Homo sapiens: one gene and its partner. The protein of the gene in region 2 purifies or fractionates together with the protein of the main gene of each other region. This does not show direct contact. Each region holds a gene or a part of one and is shown on either strand. Other genes may lie near its edges.

What was found.
Region 1: the proteins of HNRNPUL2 (region 2) and MOV10 purify together in Homo sapiens (affinity purification with mass spectrometry; 2 studies listed by BioGRID and IntAct, with this or other methods). This does not show direct contact.

What each region holds. Positions count from the first base shown.
Region 1 is NC_000001.11:112,698,375-112,701,239, forward strand, and holds the end of MOV10 (helicase MOV-10), read left to right. Parts: coding exon 1-104; intron 105-263; coding exon of another isoform or gene 264-299; exon of another isoform or gene 300-340; coding exon 341-415; exon of another isoform or gene 416-439; intron 440-1,083; coding exon of another isoform or gene 1,084-1,197; exon of another isoform or gene 1,198-1,310; coding exon 1,311-1,436; intron 1,437-1,519; coding exon 1,520-1,608; intron 1,609-1,844; coding exon 1,845-1,966; intron 1,967-2,041; coding exon 2,042-2,133; 3' UTR 2,134-2,365; downstream 2,366-2,865.
Region 2 is NC_000011.10:62,711,796-62,717,620, forward strand, and holds the end of HNRNPUL2 (heterogeneous nuclear ribonucleoprotein U-like protein 2), read right to left. Parts: intron 5,395-5,825; coding exon 5,194-5,394; intron 4,143-5,193; coding exon 4,069-4,142; intron 3,813-4,068; coding exon 3,705-3,812; intron 3,585-3,704; coding exon 3,504-3,584; 3' UTR 835-3,503; downstream 1-834.

The DNA.
Region 1 (2,865 bases), on a different chromosome or scaffold from region 2:
CAGTGACTTCCTACCTGAAGCTGCTCCTGGCCCCCTCCTCCAAGAAGGGCAAAGCTCGCCTGAGCCCTCGAAGTGTGGGCGTCATCTCCCCGTACCGGAAACAGGTCAGGTCCTCAGTTACCAGCAAGGGTGGGGCCCCTCCCCCAGATGGTACCTCCTTAATATCCAGACCACTAGGCAGAGGCTCCAGGAGCTTAGGCCTCTGCTGGCTCCGTATCTCAGAAGAGCACCAAGGTCAGCTGCCGCCTCCCTTTGTTCCCCAGCTCCCTGGCCTCCTGCCAGGCTCCCTCTTGCATTAGGTTAATGGCACGAGAGAAAGGCACCTGTCCCCTCCTTCCAGGTGGAGAAAATCCGTTACTGCATCACCAAACTTGACAGGGAGCTTCGAGGACTGGATGACATCAAGGACTTGAAGGTGACATGCTGTTCCACAGTCACTCCCTGCCTTCCGTGTGCCCCCACTTGCCCACTTCCAGAGACTTCCTCAAGCTTCCACTCCAGCCCACGTCCCCGTCCCACCCCTGCTGCCTTGAATAGAGCTCGAGCTCTCCCTGAGCCTCTCACTCCTGGAGATTCCAACTTAAGGGTCTGGGATGGGATCAGGAAGCCTGCATGTTTAACAAACACCTCCTGTCATTCTTAGACTGAGGCAGGTTTGAGGCCTCTGCCCTAAGGATAAAGTCCAAATTCCGTGGCCTGTCATGTGATGCTGCCACCCCCACCCCCAGTAGCCTCTCTCTTAAGGTTCTGGTCTCAACACTGGCTGCAGATAACAATCACCTGGAGAGCTTTTAATACCCCGCCCCCATGCCAGGGCCCCACCCACCAGCTCATACAGCTATCGGGGCAGAGCCAGGGCACTGGTAGTTTTTACAGCTTCTCAGGTGATTCTAATATGCAGCCAGGGTTGAAAACACTGCTCTAAGACTTACAGGCCTCTCTCTTGGAAATTCTGATCGGGGGTCCGGGTTAGGGCCCAGGGTTGTATATTCTTAACAGATACTTAGTGATTGTTTTCAGGAAAGTTTGAAAGTCACTGCTCTGAGTTCCCGTGTTCTTTGCAATGCTGTTTTCTTTCCTTAGAACACTTTGCAGGCCCCAGCCCTCAGCAGGATTCAACCTTCATGTTTCAGCTTCCACAGCCTACCTCCCATCCCCTTTCCCTGGGCCGTGTCGCAGCACTGGTTCACTCACTGATCTACAATTGCCCAGTGACCTCTCTGTACCCTCCTTGGAAGGCAAGCTCCCTGGGGTAGGGCACCCCTTTGACACCCCTGGCTGGTCTCAGGCCCTGCCTCTTTCCCCACTAGGTGGGTTCAGTAGAAGAATTCCAAGGCCAAGAACGAAGCGTCATCCTCATCTCCACCGTGCGAAGCAGCCAGAGCTTTGTGCAGCTGGATCTGGACTTTAATCTGGGTTTCCTTAAGAACCCCAAGGTTTGAGGGCTGGTCGGGGTGGCAGGAATTCTTCCATTCTCGGGGCTCTTCCCTCCCATGACCACACCACTTCTTCCTTCCAGAGGTTCAATGTAGCTGTGACCCGGGCCAAGGCCCTGCTCATCATCGTGGGGAACCCCCTTCTCCTGGGCCATGACCCTGACTGGAAAGTGTGAGCATTCCCACCCCATTCTCCCTCTTAGTGGCCACAGCCCCTGCCTAGGGCAGGTGGATCTTTTTTAAGCGCTTGCTTATCGCTCAGTTAATCCTCAGATGTGTCCATTTTCACAGCATCACTATTGTATTTATAAGTTAAATGACATCCAGAGGTTGAGCAAGTACAGCTCAGATGGGACAGGACCGTGGCTTAGCCTCCAGTCTCTGCTGGCACTCCTCTGTACCCCACAGATTCCTGGAGTTCTGTAAAGAAAACGGAGGGTATACCGGGTGTCCCTTCCCTGCCAAACTGGACCTGCAACAGGGACAGAATTTACTGCAAGGTCTGAGCAAGCTCAGCCCCTCTACCTCAGGTATGGCTGGGCCAGGGTGGGGACAGTGCCAGAGGAGGTGGTAAGGAAGACACAGTGTACTTTCTCTCTTTCCAGGGCCCCACAGCCATGACTACCTCCCCCAGGAGCGGGAGGGTGAAGGGGGCCTGTCTCTGCAAGTGGAGCCAGAGTGGAGGAATGAGCTCTGAAGACACAGCACCCAGCCTTCTCGCACCAGCCAAGCCTTAACTGCCTGCCTGACCCTGAACCAGAACCCAGCTGAACTGCCCCTCCAAGGGACAGGAAGGCTGGGGGAGGGAGTTTACAACCCAAGCCATTCCACCCCCTCCCCTGCTGGGGAGAATGACACATCAAGCTGCTAACAATTGGGGGAAGGGGAAGGAAGAAAACTCTGAAAACAAAATCTTGTTCTATGCAAAAGCCTTGATAATGTCTCCTCTGCCTGGCCCCAGCTTCCTGAGCCCCTAAGCTGACCCTGTAGGGAAGGGTGGGACTTTCAGCCCTGCTGAGGGTCACATCCCCTCCCAGCTGGAGAGGAACCCAGCCCCCACACTCGGGGGAGGAAACCCAGTGGGAGGTGGCAGGGAAGCCACCCACAGGTTTCTAAGTTTAGCCCCCTGCTACAGACCACTCCCTTCACCCGCCTCCTTGGCCCAGAGCCAGGCATGACCTCATCCTTTGCTCTAAGACTCCACCCTGCTGGCCACTGGCCTGCTTTGTAGACAGGGGGCCAGGCTGGCAAGCAACTTGGACATGAAAAGAGATGGGACACCAAGCACCCAGAGGGAAAGACCGAAAGCTGCCACACACGTTGGAGCCTGTAGCCTTTATTCATGCCCCCCTGACCAAATGCAGTGAGAGACAAGGCCCCTGCCGAAAACAACTCCAGGGGCCTGGGACTCTGGGTCCCCTACTGCAGA
Region 2 (5,825 bases):
AACTGCCGTTAGGATCATTTCAGTGCTAATAATGCAATGGTGGCTGGGAGCGGAGGCTCACACCTGTAATCCCAGCACTTTGGGAGGCTGAGGCAGGCAGATCACGAGGTCAGGAGTTCAAGACCAGCCTGGCCAATATGGTGAAACCCTGTCTCTACTAGGAAAAAAAAAAAAAAAAAATTAGCTGGGCCTGGTGGCACACATGTGTAGTCCCAGCTACTCGGGAGGCTGAAGCAGAAAAATCGCTCGAACCCAGGAGGCGGAAGTTGCAGTGAGCCGAGAGCGTGCCACTGCACTCCAGCCTGGGTAACAGAGCGAGGCTCTGTCAAAAAAAAAAAATAAAAATAAAAATAAAAAATAAAAAAGCAATGGCGCTGTTGTAAATTTAATTTACCGTCTCGTTCTCCAGATTCACTGGAAAATAACCCCCATCAAACTTCTGTTGAATGAGTGGGCTTTCCCCCTAGCAGTAATTATTCATGAATATACTTATTTGGCTCCACAATGTACATTTAACTTCAAGCATCCAACTAGTTTTTGCATAGGCCAAATACAGAGGTCGTGAGTTATAATTTATTTTCCTATACTTCAATGGCTCGACTCTTGGCCTAAGCAAGCACTAAATAGACTAATAACTACCCACCCATGTCAACTGACTGCATGGCTGGCTCCCAAGTGAAGGCATGGTAGAATAGGGAGGGAACGGCAGCCACCATGCAAGAGGAGAGTCCTCCTTGGTTGGAGCCCATGCGACCTGAGAAAGAGGCATTAAAAAATGAATAAATAACCCAGTGACACCCTCCGCCCCAGTCAGTGCAGCCACAGGAGATAGGGTGAATTCAATCCAAATGGTTATTTATTCTAAAACTGGAAGCTACTTTGCCTACATTTTCGCCAGAATGGTGTAATGAGAACAGGGGAGGAAAAAGTTACAGATGTAAACAATGACACAGTTACATTTTTTTTTTAAATGGTAAAACCCCTTTTTACTGGCCACTTCCAAGAATGCTTTACAGGTTGTGCAAAAACATTTACAGGCTCCATGTGGTGTTTTTCTCACAAGCTTTCCTGTCTACAACTACAACAGACGTCTGATAAAACACTAAACAAGTCTTCTAAGGAAAACAAGGCTAGGGATTCCTCTGGTTACCATAATCCACATTTTCCCCCTTAACATAGTTTTTCATAATAAAAAGACAGAAACAAAACCCGGACATCTACTGTTGTTGCAAATGATCTCTTGGACTAAACCAACAAGGATGTGGCAGTTTCACTTTCCACCCACCTAGAAAAACAGTTTTGTAAAAAAGATTACTTTCTAGTGTCAAATATCAACAGCGAGTACCTCCCCTAACCCCTGCTGGAAAAAAACTCAACTTGATTTAGTTTAGTCCCCTTGCCCCTAAGGGCCCTAGCATCCCCATCCATGTCACAGACTACAAGAAAGATGCTATTTGCAGGACTAAACATCTGAAAAGGGGTGGCAGCCACTGCCTCAGGAAATTCAATTTTCTATTATAACATAATCTTGCCCTAAGGGAATTTCTTTGGGCTCCAGTTTTTACCTCCTTGCCTTGACATTATAAGCAAAGCTTTCTCAAACTCCCTTAATAATAATACAAAGTTAATGTGTTACAGAAAAATTCATGCAATCACTCCACTGCCACACAGAAATCCATTTGAGGACACCGCAGGGAAGCAGGTGCCAAGAGAAAGGACATGACTATGAGTAAGCAAACTTATCTCCTACCAGCCCCATTCCAGCCTTGGGGTCAGAGGTATTTGGGCGGAAGGGTGTGTCATGACAGACAAGGACACTAGAGGCCAGAATAAGGGTCTGTACACCTGAACAAGGGCTGCAGGGCAGTAACAGTGGGAGGAGGAGAGGAAGACCAAATCAGCCCACAATTTTAAACAGAGAACTGCCCAGGTGAGGAAATGGAAGTGAAGCATTTTCTAGTGGCACAGATTTTCTCACTAGGAACTGCTGCAGTATGTGGTGTCTGCTGAGTAAGCTCTTGGCTGACAGTGCTGAGCAGGAGGATGAATGAAAACTGAAGCTAGACATTGAAAGAGCATTCCATATCCCACCCATATTCTTGAACCCAGCAACCTACAGCTGTCTATCAAGAACTGGGAGGGTATTGGTAAAGTCACAAATGAAACTATCCCAACTGAAGGCTCCTGGCTAGAGGCCTCTCTGGGGACACACAGGGAAAGCGCCCCAAAAGGAATTTTGTTTCTAGAAGTCGGGAAGGGGTGCTCCCTTTCACACGCACATTTACACACGTTCACACTCACACTCTTCCCAAGGTTCAGCAGCCCCACTGAGCTGCCTCCCACCCCCCCCCACCACCCTCCCCTCTTCTATTCATTCTCTACCTGTGTATCAAAAAAACCAGCAGGGCACGAGCCCTCCACACTGTAGAAAATAGTTGCTAGTTGCTATTCTCAGCACCTGGGCCTGTGAGCCCACACCACAGGATTCACCTATATACATATCCCGCTGCAGTGAAAAGAATCCTGCTGTGTTTTCGTGTGAGCTGAAACCCTGAGAAACGTTCCTTCTCTCGCACTGTAAGAGGACAGACACTCTAACAGGGATGATTTCAGAGACCTCCCACCTCTCTCAACCTTGGAAGACAGAGACTAGAGACTGGCAAATCACAATCTTTAGGCTGAGGGCTGCAATCCCATTCTCCCCAAGATTTTACAGGAATTAATCAATGGGTCTATAGAAGGGGCAGGCTATTCTGCTCTGCCATCAAGGACAGTCCCCAGGCTTTCTTGGCCTGGGAATCCTGTAAAATAGAACCACCCACTGGCAGTCTCCATGCCTCAGCCAAACAGCACAAAGGCACAGGAAAATGGAGAGTTGGGACACTGTAAGCCTCCCAGCCCACCAGACCACATATCCCAAAAGGGAAAGGTCGGTAAAGAAAATACAAACGGTTAGTTGGTGCAAGTGATTGATAAGAGCCAATCGTTTATTTTCACTGTCCCAGTCACAAGCTCTCCCTCTGTCCCCACTCCTGCCTGCTCCTACCTGCTGTGGAGAGCACCCTCGCGCTGCCTCCCCACCCTCCCCACACCACCTCATCACTCTCCTTTACTTGGCTGCCAGTCCAGCTGCCTCAGAATGTCAGAAGGGTGCCATTTTCAGTTCTTTTCCTGTCTGACTGTAGGGTATAGAACAGGCAGCCCTAAGTGCTGCTTTCTGCGCAAATGTTTTTTGATTACAAATCTCTAACTAGGTTTGAAATGTTTTATAGAATAAGACAATATTCTTTTCAACAAACTTTAAAAAAAATGTACAGTTTTGTTGTTTGTTTCCACCTCCCCCCTCCCCCACCCCTGCTTGAGCACCCTCCCCCCCCACCACCCCTCCCCGGCAGCTCAGCCCCACCCCGACAGCCCCTGTTTTCCTTGGTTGTGTTTTGCGGGGGTGCCTGGCACCCCCAGAGATTCAGCTTCATGGCTGACAGGTGACCATGGCAGGGGCTTCACCGATACCCTTGGTACCCGTAGTAATTCCTGTAGTATCGGTCTCTGTCCTGGGGGTGGTGGTAGTAGTAACTCTGCCACTAGAAGAGAGGGAAACCCCATCACTTGGAGCCAGAGCTGGCTGAGGATGAAGAGGCATAACACTCATCCTTCTGCTCCTGCCCCCCTTCACCCTGTGTCTATCCCAAGAAGATACTCACATCCCGATTGTATTGTCTGTAATAGTCTCTGTATCTGTTGTACTCATAATCTCGCCCGTAAAATCGATCATAGTCTCCCCTGTATCGATCATAGAAATTACGGTAACCCTGAGAAAGGAAAAGAAAAAGGAGTGAAGGTTTATGGGTTTTTGGCAGCATGACCCACCGTGACCCCCTTTTAAATGCGACACATCTTAGCTCGATATTATAAATTGGTTTAATTTTCCCATAGTAAATCTTCCAGAACATATTAAATGGGCAAAACCCTAAGCCCTAAGAAAACAGGCAAACCACTCTGCTCCCCCAAGCCAACAGAATGGCTCTCACAGCCCAGAGTGAGGAGCAGAAGGAGAGCTGCACTCACCCCTCTGTTTCCAGGCTGCCCCCAGTACTGCTGCCCGTAGGCCCGGTTGTCGTAGCCTCGGCGCTGCCCGCCCACTGGAAGAGAAATGGAGAGCGCGCTCAGACAGCTGGCATGGGGTCCTGGCTCCACATCTGGGTGGAAATCAAAAACTTGGAGCCAAAGGCAATTCTGGGGGAATATGAGGCCTGCTTCGGCCAGGCTCACACATGTTAATTAAAGCACCAGCCAGGAACTTTTAAAAAGTCTGAGGGGGGAGGGCAGAGGAACAGAGACACAAGAAAACCAAGCCACTTTGTTTTTGAAGCTCCCCAATTCCTGCAAAACATTTAAGATGGCAAAAGGATACATGGCAGAGTTAGAAACATAAGGAAAAACTGCCATTCATAGAATCAGACTTTCAGCCCTGGAAGGGATTTCAGATATCGTATAACCCATACCTATCATTTTATGCAAAAGAAACAAAGTCTCTGTAATCAGCTCCTCAAGGGCGGGAACTGTCAGCATTTACAGTACCTAGCACATAGCAGGCACTCGGAAATTCTGCTGACTTAACAGTTACACACACACATACACACACATTTTTAAAGAGCAGTGAATGCACACTGGGGTTTTAACTGACAAACTAGACATTCAGGGGGAAAATTAATTCTACTAATAGCCTAACTTGCTTGGTTAAGTTCTTCCCCCCACAAAAAACACTGAATAAAGCATTCGCTTTCTTGTTAATCGAAATGACACAGAAGCAAGAAAACTGAAGATGAGAATTTGATTTCACTGCACAAATCCTTCAGATAAGACAGGAACAGTGACACTGGGAACCCATATGTTAAAATGAAAACTAGATAGATGAGAAAGCCCAAGCATTGCTTTTCAAAGAAACAAATACTTTTGTGAAAAGTAACTCTTTTTTAAAAAAGAGGATTTTTGTTGTTGTTGAAGAATTATGGAAAAAGCACAAGAAAAAGGCAGGGATAAAGAACACAGGAAGAAATAAGCTCCATGAAGAAGGCACTTCCGTATTGTTAATGACCTGACTTGGTTTCCTTGGCCTTCCCTTGCACATCTTGCTGTACTAAGCACAAAGAATGGACTGAAGTAGGGGGCTGGCAGGTCCCCAAGACTCACCATAGCCTTGGCCCCGGCTTCGGTTCTGCCGGTTACGCTTGTTTCGGTTGTTTCGGCGATTTGTCCGCTTCTCGGAGGGGGGCAGAAGCTTCCTTGCCTCCTCCTTGTACTTAGTGACAATGGGCTGAGCTTCCTCCTTCTCCAGCTCCCCATATGTCACCTCATCCATATAGTCGCATTTTTCAGGCAAAGAGAAGTTGGCTATAAGAGTAAGAGAGAAGCTTGTGGGCCTGAAAAGTGCATAGATGGGTAAGAACTCATTATGAAAACTCTACAAGAAGCATATGACTTTCTATGCCTCATCTATTACTGCACAAAAATGTGCTACGTTTATACCCACTCGCATCTAAATAATGACATTAACTTTTTCTACTCTAAGTTTTCCCTAAATTGTAACAGACCCAGGCAAAGGGCTATGTAGATTTACAAGTTCTTAAGTGATCTATAATAAATTAGGAGTGAACTGGGTTAAAGTTTCTCATCAGGACAGAAGCAGGTAACCAGAGGCTAAAAGTAACTGAGAAAGTTCTGGTGTTGGTCAGATAAGATGCTAAGAAATAACATTTTAAAAAGAGACTCAGAGATGGCCGGGCATGGTGGCTCACGCCTGTAATCCCAGCATTTTGGGAGGC